Linked DNA regions of Homo sapiens: region 1 is linked to region 2. Evidence: fine-mapped expression QTL. Tissue or cell type: whole blood. Region 2 holds a variant in brackets; the other region holds the start of a gene. All regions are shown on one strand. Distances are between the middles of the regions.

The links. PIP is the estimated chance that this variant, and not a neighbour inherited with it, causes the effect.
Region 1: MED19 starts here. The variant in region 2 is fine-mapped to the expression of MED19 in whole blood (TOPMed, PIP above 0.99).

Annotation. Positions count from the first base shown.
Region 1 is chr11:57,707,875-57,715,962 of GRCh38, reverse strand. MED19 (mediator complex subunit 19) reads left to right here and starts at 3,748. Exons shown (of 5, transcript NM_001317078.4): 1 at 3,748-4,000. The coding sequence starts at 3,784. It overlaps TMX2 (thioredoxin related transmembrane protein 2), which reads right to left and starts at 3,370. Exons shown (of 8, transcript NM_015959.4): 1 at 3,156-3,370. The coding sequence starts at 3,344. TMX2-CTNND1 (TMX2-CTNND1 readthrough (NMD candidate)) reads right to left here and starts at 3,440. Exons shown (of 21, transcript NR_037646.1): 1 at 3,156-3,440. RefSeq lists an enhancer at 1-410 and a silencer at 3,778-4,117.
Region 2 is chr11:57,972,196-57,980,300 of GRCh38, reverse strand. No RefSeq gene overlaps it. Among named protein-coding and RNA genes, the nearest start is that of OR9Q1, 48 kb to the left of the region's middle. RefSeq lists a silencer at 1,230-1,524. The variant T/C (reference allele first, on the strand shown) is at 4,805.

The DNA.
Region 1 (8,088 bases), 260 kb after region 2:
TTCATTTTGTTCTGTACTAAGATAAATTCTTCTGCCTTGGGATCCTGTTGATCGGTGACCTTACCCCCAACCCTGTGCTCTCTGAAACATGTGCTGTGTCCACTCAGGGTTAAATGGATTAAGGGCGGTGCAAGATGTGCTTTGTTAAACAGATGCTTGAAGGCAGCATGCTCGTTAAGAATCATCACCACTCCCTAATCTCAAGTACCCAGGGACACAAACACTGCGGAAGGCGGCAGGGTCCTCTGCCTAGGAAAACCAGAGACCTTTGTTCACTTGTTTATCTGCCAACCTTCCCTCCACTATTGTCCTATGACCCTGCCAAGTCCCCCTCTGCGAGAAACACCCAAGAATGATCAATAAAAGAAAAAAAAAAGAAAACAAATTCTAAGAGGTTATAAAAGGTTTATGGAAATTTTATCTTGTCTAGTCAAAGCTGATCAAGATTAGACAGATTTGTTTGTAAAGTTTATTAAAATCAGCTTTAGTATTAAAAGCACATTAATACATATATATTATATATAAAATATATTTTTTTAATTTTATTTATTTATTTATTTTGAGACAGAACTTTGCTCTTGTTGCCCAGGCTGGAGTGCAATGGCACGATCCTGGCTCACTGCAACCTCTGCCTCTCAGGTTCAAGTGATTCTCCTGCCTTAGCCTCCAGAGTAGCTGGGATTACAGGCACCCACCACCACACCCAGCTAATTTTTTGTATTTTTAGTAGAGACGGGGTTACACCATGTTGGCCAGGCTGGTCTCGAACTCCTGAGCTCAGGAAATCCACCCGCCTCAGCCTCCCAAAGTGCTGGGATTACAGATGTGAGCCACCATGCCTGGCCAAGTGTCTTATTTTCAAGGAGGATCATGGAAAGCATGGGAAGAATGCTGACAAATAAAGGTTTCTGATAACTTTGAAACTGTATCACCGGACTGGGTAAAAATTTCCAAAGTCTAATGAAAATAAAACTGGACTCATAAAATTGCTAACCTCCAGACTAATGTTTTCCATTTTTCACCCACTCTTCTGACTTAGAATCACTAAAAATTAAAACGGCCTTTTTTAGCTTGGCGCAGTGGCTCACACCTGTAAATCCCAGCTCCTTAGGAAGCCAAGTCAGGAGGATCCCTTGAGCTCAGGAGTTCAAGACCAGCCTGGGCAACATCAAGAGACCCCACCTTGAAAAAAAATTTTTAAAAATTAGCCAGGTGTGTAGTGCATGCCTTTGGTTCCAGCTACCTGGAAAGCTGAGGTGGCAGGATGGCTTTGCCCAGGAGGTTAAGACTACAGTGAGCCATGATCACATCACTGCACTCCAGCTTGGATGACAGAGCAAGACCTTGTCTCAAAAAAAAATCCAAAAAACTAAAAACCCTGCCTTTTTCCTAAGGCCTTACCAGCTAAAGCTAGTCAACGTGACTTTGAAAAAAAAATCACCACAAAAGCTTATATTTGGACAAACTTTACACACAACCTACAATCTAGGAAAATAGATTGCTATTAATCTTCCCAATTGACTGCCCTCCAGACTCTAAAGAAACTAGTTTATAGACTATACCAGATATTAAGCTTTGTTTGTCTTGTTCCATAGAAATGTCTCTCTTATTAAATACCTGTTTGCCTACATCATATACAGAGGCCTAGCTTTGAGAACTCATCTACAATGCCATCTTCTGAAATGAGACACAACAATTTAATTGAACTGGACTATCCCCCAAAATGAGAGGCTGGTTTAATGGGATCCTTTGCCGCTCAATTACTAGCCCGATTTCTCTCTCCACAGACACCAACTCAGCTTATAGTGAAACTTCTAAGGAAGTTTCAGACAAAGGAAATAAAGAAGACCAGGGACTCACACCCCAAAATATGGCATCCTGTATGCTAATCATTTTAAATTAAAGGTCCCTGGAAACCAGCAGATACTGGAAGCAGCTTTACTCTGATAACTACCTTATCTGCCTAAAGTCCAGACCTGTCAAAGAAGACAACAATTACTTCTGGTCTCTTCCCTGAGTTTTCATTAACTTACTTCAGTACAAGAAGAAAGATGGAAGCCTGTCAACACACCTGGACAGATTTTTGTCAGAAACCATTGTCTGCTCTGCAGGCCCAACAGTCATTGTCCCAGGCCACTGTATGTTCTCCAGGCCACTGAATCACCCTAAAAATCATTTACGATCCACCTTAAAATCACCCACATTTTCCCATCTCCCATATTCCTATGAAAGAGGGTATATAAGCATCTGTACCCCACTGGGTCATTCTCCTGCAATTCCCTCATGCTATGCACGTTAAAATAAAATTTCTATGCCTTTCTCCTATTAATGTGCCCTTTGTCGGTTGATTTTTCAACAAACCCTCAGAGAGCAAAGGGGAAGCTTTTCCTTGGCCCCTACATGCTATATGGCAGAAGGGAAAGTGCTTTAAGTTTATGTTCCGAGCAGTCCCTCCACCCATACCAAGGAAGCACAGCAAGGAGCTTGGGACACTTCCCAAAGAAATCCCAAAGATTTCTTTACAACGTATTTTTTACAATTCCTTTACAGTAGCCCCCAAATTTTATCCACTTTCGCATCTTCAGGATCAAGCAGAGTGCCTAGAGTGTACACTCTAGAAATGTTTATTGAATTAAGAAGCGGCTGACAGTGTTGTGCAGGTAGTGTGGCCAGAAGAGTAGTTTCAAGTCCCAGGCACTCATTAGTTGTATGACCTGGGGCAAGTCACCTAAATATACCGAGATCCATTTCTTCACCAATGAAACAGGAATATTACTACTTGCCTTGTCTACCTTACTGGCTCCTCAGGAGGCTTTACATAATGAGCGGCACTGTAAAACGTTATACACGTGTATGTACAGTTTTGATAGGGCTGTTAATTAGTCTCAATGGTGAAACAGAAAGAAACCTGGACTCAACAGTCAAAAGCTGTTGGGCCGTTGTGCATGGGCTACGACTAACATGTTCCGTTTTCCCATCTTAAACACAAAGTTTAGACTCGATGATGGTTCGGACCCTGCACTTAATAGTCTCTAAGTCCGCTACAGGCTCGGAACCTCAGGTGTCCTCAGAGAGGTAAACCCCAGGGTTCCCAGATACACCTGCAAGGGCAGGGACAGTCAAGGTCGCGGGGTACTAACACGCGGGAGGCTCACCCAGTCAAAGTCACACGGGTTACCGTCTTCGCGTTGGGTGGGCAGACCGTGGCAGAGCGGCGGCAGTTTCCTCACGAGTAGGAAGGCAGCAGAGAGCAGGGCCGACAGAAGGTAGTAAGGTTGGGCGAGCCATCGTGAAAGTCGCGGCACCGAATACACGAGAGCAATTAGAGGTGCCAAGACCGCCATCTTTTCGGCCGTAACGGCCACTGCTCGCCGGCGTCGTAGGTCTCGCCCCGCCTCCCCCACCATAACGACTGCTATTGGGCTATATCGCAAACGTACGGCCTCTAAACCCGGATGTAGTTCTCTGAACGCTGTGGTAGGTCAGAACCCAAAAAAGAACTTAATATTTTATTGGTTAGTCTAGTTGTCGCTTTATCCGCCTAAGTCATTTTATTGGACTGTAGCAAGCAGAGCTAGCAGAAGACTCTAATAAGGTTAAATAGCACTTCCTGAACGTTCTCATAAGGCGACGGAAGTAGTTGTTGAAAAAAGGTAGGCGGTGCCTGAGGCATCCAATGACAAGCGGCTCCTTGAGAAAGGGCGGGGGGGTACTCCTTGAAAGCATTGTCCAATGAAAATTACCAACGGCAGACACGGAGACAGCGCCGGGGCGGAGGGTACGATGGAGAATTTCACGGCACTGTTTGGGGCTCAGGCTGACCCACCACCGCCCCCAACCGCACTCGGCTTCGGACCAGGAAAGCCTCCACCCCCGCCACCGCCTCCTGCGGGCGGGGGACCCGGCACGGCCCCGCCTCCCACCGCGGCCACGGCTCCTCCTGGCGCGGACAAGTCAGGAGCTGGCTGTGGCCCTTTTTACCTCATGAGGGAACTGCCAGGTGAGTACTCGGCCTTGCCAAAGCCAGCCAATCAAATCTTAGAGAGGAGGTGATGGGCGTGGCTCTCAGCCGGCTAGCGGAGGTGCGAGGTAACCTAGGCAACGCATACCCGGACTGTGGAGCCCTAAGTCGGAAGCGCTGTTAGGATTCACAAGCAGAGGGATGACTTGAATTCAACCAGGATGAGTTGAATTCAACCAAAGGGATGAATGGCGGGCAGGGGCGTAGTGCATCTCCGTTACTGTCTTTTGCACCATGTCCAGGCTGTGTCCCTGACACTGGTTTATGTCTCTCTAAAAAATGACCTAGGGCTGGGCGCGGTGGCTCACGCCTGTAATCCCAACACTCTGGGAGGCGGAGGCGGGCGAATCACCTAAGGTCAGGAGTTCGAGACCGGCCTGGCCAACATGATGAAACCCTGTCTCCACAAAAAACACAAAAATTACCTGGGCGTGGTGGCGTATACCTTTAATTCCAGCTACTCGGGAGGCTGAGGCGGGAGAATCGTTTGAACCCCGGGAGGCGGAGGTTGCAGAGAGCCGACATTGCTCCACTGCACTCCAGCCTGGGCGAACGAGACTCCGTCTCAAAACAAACAAAATCCAGGGTTTGAGTTTGGAACTCGAGAGGCCTGATTTAATATCTTTGGGGACCCAAAGTTTTAGTTACAGGTCTCCCACAGACTTGCTATTGGTTTGGGGCAAGTTGCCATTCTTCCTTCTAAGGTTCCGGCATTTCCTGGTCTGATCAAAAAAGGGATAAGAATCGAACCAAACTCTTCATTCAAAAAATTATTTTGTTGAGTACCTATGTACCAAGCACTTTTCTAAATGCTGGAGACAGTTGTGAACAAGACTGACAAGATGCTTGCCTTTTTTGGGATGTACATTTCAGTGGAGGAGGCATTGTAAACAAGATAATGTCAGAAAGTGGTTAATGCTAGGAAAAGAAAACATGATAAAAATTGAAGGTGGCCAGGCGCGTTGCTCACGCCTGTAATCCCAGCGCTTTGGGAGGCCGAGGCAGAATCCCTTGAGCCCAGGAGTTTGAGACCAGCATGGGCAACATGGCGAGACCCAGTCTCTACAAAATATACAAGATTAACCGGGCGTGGTAATGCATGCCTGTAGCCCCAGCTACTCAGGAGGCTAAGGGAGGAGAATCGCTTGAACACAGGAGGTCGAGGCTGCAGTGAACCAAGATTGTGCCACTGCACTCCAGCCTGGGCAACAGATGAGACCCTGTCTCTTAAAAAAAAAAAATTGAGGGGCAGAACTACTTTAGCTAGAGTGGCCAGAGATGCTCTCTTCACATAGCTAACATTTGAACTAAAATGTAAGCATAGACAAAGGGCCAGCCATGTATGGACAGGAGGGAGAGACAATTGTAGATACAAGAAATGAGGTCAGAAACCCTGATGTGAGAAAAAGCTTAGAATATCTGAGGGACAGAAAATCAGTTGGACTCCAGTGAAGTGAACAAAAGGAAAGAGTGTTAGGGAGAGAGATGAAGCTGGGAGAGTTAGGCAGAGGCTTTTATAAAGCAGTAAAGGCATTTAGATTGTAAATACAAAAGGAAGCCATTTAAAAAATTTTTTTATAGACACAAGGTCTCACTGTGTCACCCAGGCTGGACTGCAGTGGTATAATCATAGCTCACTGTAACCTCCAGTTCCTAGGCTCATGCTGTCGTCCCACCTCAGCCTTCCAAGTAGCTAGGACTACAGGCATGCACCACCACAGTTGGCTAACTTAAAATTTTTTTGTAGAGACTGGGTCTTACTGTGTTGCGCAAGCTGGTCTTGAACTCCTGGCCAACAGCAGTCCTCCCGCCTTGGCCTCCCAAAGTGCTAGGATTATAGGTCTGAGCCACTGTGCCCAGCCAAGGAAAGCCATTTTAACATAGGAAGTTGGTCAAATGCACTTGTTTATAATCATTTAAGCAGCCACATGACAAATAGAAAGTGGGGAAATTAGTCAGAAGTTACTGCTCAGTAGTCCAGGAAAGATAATGGTTTGAACCAGAGCATAGCAGGGCATAGAGAAGTAAATGGATACAGGATGTTAGAGGTAGAGCTGACAGGGTTGAAAAATTGAATACAGGGCCAGGCGCTGTGGCTCACGCCAGTAATCCCAGCACTTTGGGAGGCTGAGGTGGGAGGATTGCTTGAGCCCAAAAGTTTGAGACCAGCCTGGGCAACATAATGAGACCCCATCTCTACAAAAAATAAAAATAAATTAGCTAGGGATAGCAGCATGCACCTGTAGTCTCAGCTACCTAGGAAGATGAGGTGGTAGAAATCACTTGAGCCCAGGAAGTTGAGGCTGCAGTGAGCCATGATTGTGCCACTGCACTCCAGCTTGGATGATAGAGGAAGACCCTGTCTCAATTAAAAATATATATTGTATATAGAAGTGAAGGAAATAGAGGAATTGATGCCTTTTTAAGTTTTCGGCTTGAATAATTGGGTGTATGGGTACGGAGACTTGGAAGATGAGGAAGGAACAAGTTTGAAGAGGTGGAAATCAAGAGTTATTTTGGACATGTTTGGTCTCCAAGATGCCTCTTTTTTTTTTTTTTTTAAACAGAGTTTTGCTCTTGTTGCCCAGGCTGGAGTGCAATGGCACAATCTCAGCTCACCACAACCTCCGCCTCCCAGGTTCAAGCGATTCTCCTGCCTCAGCCTCCCGAGTAGTTCGGATTACAGGCATGTGCCACCACACCCAGCTAATTTTTTATTTTTAGTGGAGACAGGGTTTCTCCCTGTTGGTCAGGCAGATCTCAAACTCCCAACCTCAGGTGATCCGCCCACCTTGGCCTCCCAGAGTGCCAGGATTACAGGCGTGAGCCACTGCGCCCAGCCTCCCAGATGCCTTTCATTGTCTCAAGTCTTATTTCCACATCATGACTTGAGGGAAATAGCAACAAATATTGGTATAGTACTTTGAAGTTCACAACACACTTACATGCAGTATTTAATATAAGTAGTATTTAATACTTAGAATAGCCCTTTGAGGTAGCATTACTGTCTACATTTTATAATTGAAAAAACTGAAACATGGAGAAGTTGACATCCCTTTGATTAGTTAGTGGTTGATGTCCACCAGCGGTTTCTTTTAATCTTTCTTTTGCCTTCCCTATTCTGATTGTAGCTATTTGTATCAGTCAGTTGACAGATATTGAATATATGTTCTGGGCAAATGCTGGGTGTATGAGGCGGGTGAGATGGAGAGAGAGATTAGTAATGCTGGTCATTGCTTTTCAAGGAGTTTAGTTAGGAATGTAAAATTTGTGGTTTAAGGATAGTGACTATATTTCCTGTCACCTCCATCTCATTTTGTGCTCATGCCTCACAACAGCAATTAACAATATCTTAGCCATCAATATTAAGAACTACCTAATGGTTTTCAAAGTGTGTTGCTATCCAGAATGACAGTGAGAATAAGATGTCACTTGAGCTAGACCTTGAATAATCCATATTGGTGAAGAAAAATTAGGAAGAATTTTCCTAAGATGAAATAATGTGAGGGGTGTTTTTTTGAGGCGATAAGGAGATCCATTTGGATGGATCAGAAATTTTGCATAGGAGAGTAGTGGTTGATGAGGCCCCAAAGCTAAGTTGGAGTAAGATGTAATTAGCCTTGAGTGCCAGTCAAAGGAATTTGAGCTTTCTCCTGAGGGCAAAAAGAAACCATTAAGATTTGTGAACTGAGGAGTACTGATTTCCAAAAATATCTGGAACATGTGGGTGCCATGGATTGAAATAGAGAAGCCCTGAGTGATGTTGGCAAGATTTGGAATTTCAAAACAATTTTTTTTTTTTTTATCTTGTTGGGCAGGGTGGTTCACGCCTGTAATCCTAGCACTTTGGGAGGCTGAGGCAGGCAGATAGCTTGAGTCCAGGAGTTCAAGACCAGCCTGGGCAACATAGGGAGACCCCTGTCTCTACAAAAAATACAAAAATTAGCCTAGCATGGCAGTGTATGCATGTAGTCCCAGCTACCTGGGAGGCTGAGGCAGGAAAGTAGTTTGAGCCCAGGATGCAGAGATTGCAGTGAGCTAAGATTGTGCCATTACACTCCAGCCTG
Region 2 (8,105 bases):
CAGCCTACCCCTGCCTCTAGAATAGCTTATGTCTCCAGCTCCTGAGTCTTTGGGGAGTTCTGCAGTGAGACTTAACTAATGTCTTGCTAGCTCATCCCTTCCCTTCTGTAGGGATTTAAGAGTTAGCTTTCTTCATCTCCCAGGTGCTCTGCTGTCCTTTTATGCTCCCTTTGTCCTTATAGATTTGTACCTTTTTTCCTTTTGCCAATATTTTAGTGGAGTCATGGAAGAAATCACATGTAAAATTATATGCTCAATCCCTCATGTTTGACCAGAAAAACTCCACTGTGGCAGCCACTCCTAATTGGTGCTGACAAAATAAAAAATAATAATTCTAAATCACTGTGATTGTTAATCTGAGTTTACTGCTGGGCAAAGCAGGGAAAATATGATCCAACACAGAGAAATTCAGTCCTGTGGGTTGGGGCCAAAAATAACTCAGAGGCAATTAGCCTAAGCCTTGCAGGTTTCATCATTCATAAACAGGCAGGCACCAAGCCTACCTTCTTGGGCTAAAGTTAGGGTTAGGGTTAGGGCTAAGACTAGGGCTAGGGCTAGAGTTAGGGTTAGAGATAAGGCTAATGTTAGGGCTAGGGCTAGGGTCATGGTTAGGATCAGAGTTAATCCTGAGTGTACATAAAGCCCAGGAACCCTGTGTAGACACTCTCGCCAACTAAAGACAAGAGCAAGATTTGTAAATGCAAAAGCCATAAAGTTCCCAAGAAGGTGAGGCTGTCTGATTTAAACAATGTACTATCTTCTTAGTTTCAGACTGACCTGTAATAAATCTCAGCTCAAGTCATTTGTTGAACTTTTATGTCTATTTTTGTTTTTTTCAAACTGTGTGGTCAACATCAGATTCATTAGATTGAATGCAAATAAGGCATCTGTCTGAGTCACAGACATGAAGCAGTCACAAGTTTACCACCAGGCTGTTTCTCTGCTGATTCTGATGAGTCTTCTGAGAAGCAGTTGCTCTAGTTTTCATTTCTATGGTCCTGATCTTGCAATCTCTCACATTCTCCATGCTCAAGGTCTTGCCTAGAGATAAGTCTGCAAGCCCATGTCCAAGACCTATCAAAAATTGTCTTTATTGCTACTAGATATCCATCCCCACTTCTTCCTTACTTACAGAAAAGCAATATTTTTGAGTATCTGGCAGCAATATTCCAAGCTGAAAATTATATGTTCCAGCCTCCCTTACAGGTGTCCCTGAGATCTGGCCAGCGAAGCCCAAGTGAAAGTTGCCTGTGGATTTTCTAGGACTGTTTTATTTTCCTAACATGAAACTTATCTCTTCTTTTGCATATTCTTCTTTTTCTGCTGCCTGGCGCTCCACTCAGCAAATGGTCAGTTAATGAGTACCTGCCATTCTTCCAAGCTATGGCGATATAGCAGTAAGCAAATATCCTTGCCCTTGTTGTGTGTACATTCTAGTGGACCATCTTGCAGTAAGAAGGAAAGCAAATAGAATCACAATCAGCCTCAGCTTTGACATTTCAAAGCACCTGAACCAAAGATGGGAACTTACTTGAGAAAAATAAAATCTCATTTAGTCATATTTTCAGTTACTTGCAACTGGACACAATTACTAAACATACTACTGCCTTTTTTGTTGGTGGGTGGGGGGTCGGGGGGACGGAGTCTTGCTCTTTGTCACTCAGGCTGGAGAGCAGTTGCACGATCTCAGCTCACTGCAACCTCGGCCTCCCAGGTTCAAGCAATCCACCTGCCTCAGCCTCCTGAGTAGCTGGGATTACAGGCACCCACCACCATGCCCAGCTAATTTTTGTATTATTAGTAGAGATGGGGTTTCACCATGTTCGCCGGGCTGGTCTTGAGCTCCTTACCTTAAGCGATCCACCTGCCTCAGCCTCCCAAAGTGCTGGGAATACAGGTGTGAGCCACTGCACGCAGCTGCCTTTCTTTCTTTAACTACAGGTAAGTTCCTTTATAGTTAAGATATCTGGAAGACACCTTGATGGAATAAAATGGTTTCTCAACCTCAACACTCTTGACATTTTGAACCAGATAATTCTTTGTTGTGGAGCTGTCCTAGGCACTGTAAGATGTTTGGCTGCATTCCTGACATCTACCAACCAGATGCCAGTAGCCGCATCCCCCTCCCAAGATATGACAATCAGAATGTCTCTAGACATTGTCAAGTGTTCCCTGAAAGCCAGATTTTCCCTGGTTGAGAACCACTCGCATATGGATGGTGGTGCTGGCAGAGCTAAGGCAAGCAACAAAAGCCAACCCAAACCCAGAGTATTTGGAAACAAAGCATTACTTCCTCCATCGTGGAAAGAATCCAATACAGCTAATCTACCTCTGGGGAGCTGGCTGCCCTTCCCCCCACCCTCCAGTTATCACAGCATTCCAAGAGCTCAGGGCCACTTGGCCACTGCTGCCAACAGTCCCTGCACTCCACCACAGCAGGTCAGACTTGGTGAGAGGAAAAGGGTTGTTGAGTACAGGCACAGCCTCCCTTCCTGCCACCACACTCACTTTGTGAGCACTGAGGTATCTGGGATACCCCAATTTTTGTGAGCATTGGGATATCTGGGAAAGGAGTCTAACATCTCACAGAGTGGGCCATCCATCCTACTTACGTAGTCACAAAGGCCCCCTCTGTATCAAGGCCTTGTGGCAAGCATTCATGTGGGCCACAAATAGCTCCTCACTTCACATTTACCTGAGAGGTCAGTTCACAGACACCTTCACAGGCCTCCTCAGCCATTTCCCAGTCTTGCTTCTTCCAAACCCTTAACCATCAGAGCGTGTCTTTGTCTATTTGGGCTGCTATAAAAACCAAATACCTGAGACTGAGGGGCTCATAACAACAGAAATTTATTTCTTCCAATTCTGGAGATTGGGAAGTTCAAGATCAGGTGCCAGCACGGTCAGGTTCTGGTGAGGGCCTGCCCCTGGATTGCAGACTGCCAGCTTCTTGCTGTGTCCTCACATGGTGGAAGGGACAAGGCAGCTCTCTGGGGTCTCTTTTATTATAAGGGCATTAATCTCACTCATGAGGACTTCACCCTTGTGACCTAACTACCTCTAAAAGGCCCCACCTTCTAATACCACCACCTTGGGGGTTAGGATTTCAGCATGTGGATTTGCAGGAGACACAAATATTCAGACCAGAGTACAGCCCAATTGCAAGTCAGGGGTTATTTCCTTTTTTTTTTTTTTTTTTAAAAAAAAGAAAAAAGTTCTTTGCTGAAAGAGGTGACTTTCCTCCAAAATCCTAGCAAGCCAATTTGTCCCATGCAGCTTACAAAATTTGCTGGGTCTTAAGAGCCTAGCTGCAGAGCCAATCAACTTAAAAGCTTTTACCCCCTGGAGATGCTTTCCCCTGGCCCAGCTCTCATCAAACCTGGTGGCTTTTCAGATCACCCAGTAAATAGGTCAAATAGGTGTTAAATGTTATTCATAGTGATTTACTAGGAACTACATCAGGATGAGTAGTGTGGTGTGTGTGAAAGTTAATTTTATTCAGCCTCTTAGGGCTAGCTGATTGGCATAAAGAATATTAGAAATAACTTTCACTAGAGAAATTAAAGTTTAAGACACGGTTTACTTCGAAACCACCAATGTGATGATTGATGCAGGTTAGGATTATCAATGGGTGCTAAATCAGTCTCAGAGTATCACCCCACAGGTCGCTTTTTAATAACAAAGAGAAAAAGATACCTAATGGAAATAAAATCTGGCAGACATCAACTTAATTATGTAAACAAATTAATACCACCAGTAATGGGGAAAAAATGACATTTTGTGTCTCCTACATGAGAAGAACACATTATCTGTGTAGAGTTCTTGCCAAAAATATCTAGCCTAAATCTAATCATAGGGAAAAATTCGAGAAGTTTAAATTATAGAGCATTATGCAAAAACACTGGTCTGGACTCTTCAGAACTTTCAGTATTCCAAAATAAAAGTTTTAAAAATCTAGATTAAAATTAAATTTAAAAACTAATGGACACGATAACTAAATGCAATGAATAATCCCTGATTGGACCTTAGATTCAAAATAAATAGATATATTATTTTATTATTAAAACAATTGGGAAAATTTGAATTTGAGTATAGACTGCATATTAAATTTCTTAAACATGATCATGTAATTGTGGTTATGTAAGAGAATGGCCTTCTTCTTAGCAGCTAGTATTTAAGGTGAAGTGTTTAAGGGTAAAGCATCATAATGTTCCAACTACTTTCAAGTAGTTTGGAAAAAGATACATAAGCATAAACTCACATGTTCATCAACAGATGAATGGATAAAGAAAACGTGGTATATGCATTAAAATGGAGTATTACGCAGCCTTTAAAAAGAAGGAAATCCCTGTCACATTCAACATGCATAAACCTTGAGGACATTATGCTAAGTTATATAAGCTAGTCACAAAAGCACAAATACAGCACTTTTCCACTCACATGAGATATCTAAAGTAGTCAAAATTATAAAAACAGAAAGTAAGAAAGTGGTTGCCAAGGACGGGGAGAGTGGAGAAGGAGAATTAGTTTGTTTCTGGCCATCAAGTTTCAGTTTTGCAAAATGAAAAAGTTCTAGAGATCTGTTGCACAACAATGTGAATATACTTCACACTATTGAACTGGACACAAAAATAGTTAAGATAGTAAATTTAATGTGATACGTTTATAACCACAATTAAAAATAAAATAAAAATTTAAAAATATAGACCCATATATGTTCATGACTTATGTATGTGTGTAGGTAAATATATGTATATATTATTTCTTAGAAAGAAAAGTAGGCAAAGCAAATGTGGGAAAATGT[T/C]AATAACTGTGAATCTGGAGAGAAGATATGTGGGTATTTTTATATTATCCTTTCCCTTTTTCTAAAAAAGGAAGTGGGGGCTAATCTGTGATTCACTTAGAATTGTGTAACAAGGCTCATGGCCCTTCCATGAATAACGTATTTTTTTAAATTAAGGCAAGCCCAACAGTTTACATGGGGAGAGGATGCTTGGGCTAAAGTCACTTGGGCCCATTTCTCTACTTTTTGGAGGAGTTTGCCCATCCTGCTGTAAGCGGGTATCTGCTTTAGAACGAGATTTTCATTACAGTGCTGGTCAGCGTGGCTGACCACACAAGCAGAGCCCCCTTCCAAACTCCAGACCAGCTGTTCATGCCTGCGAGCCAAGAAAGGACTGTACAGTTGCTGGCATTTGGTCTGAGACTTGCTCTCATACCAACACTCCGGCAGCAGCAAGCTTGTGTGGGTGGAGATGCATAAGGCCTGCACTCGCACCTGCTTCTAACACCACTCACCGAAAATAATCCGACACTCACGTCATGTCGTTTGGCAACAACAGGGCACCAACTGTGGAATGTGCGCCTCTCCAACCCAAACAGGCATACAGTGATGTAATGCGGGGTGAAGGAAGCAAGTTGCGGAACAGTATTTCGGAATGATACCATATGTGTTAGAAAGCAAAAAGGGAGGAGTGGAGAAAGAAAAGGAGGCAGGGGAGAAAAGAAGGGAGAGGGAGAGGAAAAGAAAGGTAGAAAAGAAAAGCAAAAGGAAGGAAAGAAAAAAAAACAAAAACAAAACCCCTGTCTGTGGATGTCTGTATGTATATATATCATATATATGTTATATGTAATATATAATATATGTAATAGATATGTTATATATGTAACATATATGTTATATATGATATATATACACACACATTTAAAATCTGAAAAAACATATATCAAACTATTAACAGTGGTTATTCTTAGAGTGTTTGAAGGTAAGGATAAGATTTTCACTATTTTACTTCTTTTTCTTGTATATTGTATAAATTTTCTGAATTAGTCCATCTTAATTTGAAATTTTCTTTTAATTTAATTTTTAAATTTTCTTTTAATTAAGAAAAATTAAAGCAAAGGACTATTTAGGGGAGGGATCTTTCTCCTTGAAGGAAAGGGGCTGCTGCTGTCACTTTGAAGTAAATAAAGACAAAGTGCAGTCTAGATCAGAGGCCCATACACTGTGGTTAGTGGACCACACATGGCCTGCCCCTATTTTTATAAACAAATTTGCATTGGAACATAGCAGCCTCCCTCATGCTATCAACAACGAAGTTCTATAGTTGTGACAAGACTAGATAGCCTGCAAAGTCAAAAATGTGTATTATCTGGCCCTTTACAAAAGACATTAGCCAATCCCAGTTCTAGATTTATATTTACCTCTGAGATGGAGTTATCTATAAGAATACCAACTCCATTAGAACACCAACTCATAAATTCAAACTCTCAGAGGAAGGAGTAAAAGGTAAAGGCTAAATTTATTTTGTAAACTCTAAAAGTTGAAATCACAAATGCGCCTCATTATAAAGACCTTTTTTTTTTTTTTTTTTTTTGAGACAGTCTTGCTCTGTCACTCCAGCTGGAATGCGGAGGCATGATCTCGGCTCACTGCAGCCTCCACCTCCCGGGTTCAAGCCATTCTCCTGCCTCAGCCTCCCAAGTGGCTGGGACTACAGGCACCCGCCACCATGCCTGGCTAATTTTTGTATTTTTAGTAGAGATGAGGTTTTACCATGTTTGTCAGGCTTGTCTTGAACTCCTGACCTCAGGTGATCCACCCACCTCGGCCTCCCAAAGTGCTGGGATTACAGGCATGAGCCACTGCGCCCAGCCAAGACCTTCTTTATTCACCCAATGTGAGTACATCCTAACACAGTCCTGTCTGTCATTCTTGGTTGATTTTCTTCAAAGAATTTATCACTGATTGATACATTCTCATTTGTTTATACTGGCCTTTCTCATCACAACCTAAGAGCCATGAGAACAGGAATCATCTCATTCTTATTTGTCACTATATCCCCAATGCCTAGAACACAGCCTGGCACATAGTGAGTGCTCAATAACATTTGACGAATGAATGAATAAGTCATTCAATCAATCTATGATTCAGTGGCAAAATGTGTATATCAGGGTAAGGAGGGATGACGATGCACTCAACAGCAATAGGAAACAGACTCCAAAGGTAAAGACAAAGAGCAGTCAGTGAACAGTCCATGAACATCTTTGAAGATGAACTAAAATGCTTAGTAATTGTGTACATGTGGCTTCTATTTTTCAGTTGAATTCAAAAATAACATAGAGAGAAATGAAAGAAATGTCTGCCTGGGGGAAGAGACTGCAATGAGATGCAGCAGCGTCAGGGCTGGGGTGGAGGTGCTTTATTATGACTTCTTTGTTTAAGGCAGGTCTCAGGGTCATCACCTCAAGGGCAAGGTGGAAAGATGTGGGGAATTCAAGCATGTTCCTTTTTGAGGTTCAGGCACAGTCAGTGGCTCAGAGGAGGAAGGAAGTGGCTGAGGGTCCAAGCTGGAAATCCTTCCCTTTCTCTTGTTTTTTGTTTGTTTGTTTGTTTGTTTGTTTGATCATAAAGCTACCTACCAGGTGGGACCCATCAAATCTTCAAGCACAGCCCACTCCCCTCAGCATACACAGTGCAAAGAGGGCTATAAACTGAGGAACTGTGTCCAAGAGGAGCCGGTTCCTCTGGGGGAATCCCAGTCCTGGAGACATAAGAGGGGTACCACAGGGTCTCTCTTTTCCTTTACTCCATTCATCCCTCTGAGGGCAAATTGGATTATCAAATGCCTGGGGGTGAATTATCAACTACTTACAAGCGGTCCTCACACCCCACATTCTAGCTCCCTTCTGAAGGGAGTGGTCCTTCGTTTTTCCAGAGGAATAGATGACAGGCTGAGAGCCTGGAAACCTTGAAAGAAATGAGATTGTTTGCCCAAGAACACAGAGAAAAGAGATAAAGGAAATGTGAAACCTTTCCTCTTTGGAAAGAAAGCATATATGTCTCCTGGGAATTTTTATTAGGTTTTGCCATAGATCAAAACTACCTCCCCGGGACACAGACAGCTTTTCAGTCTCCCCAAGAAATTTTCAGTAAAATTGTCATTACTCATTAATCCTTGGTTGCACTGGATTTTTGGGAAATGATAACAAAGATCCTGCCTCAAGGTGGGTGTAGGGTCAAGAACAGAGACTACTCATGGTGCCCAGTCACATCTGAGTTACAAGAATAGCCTATTGTATTCTGCGGCCCTGGAGTTCTTATC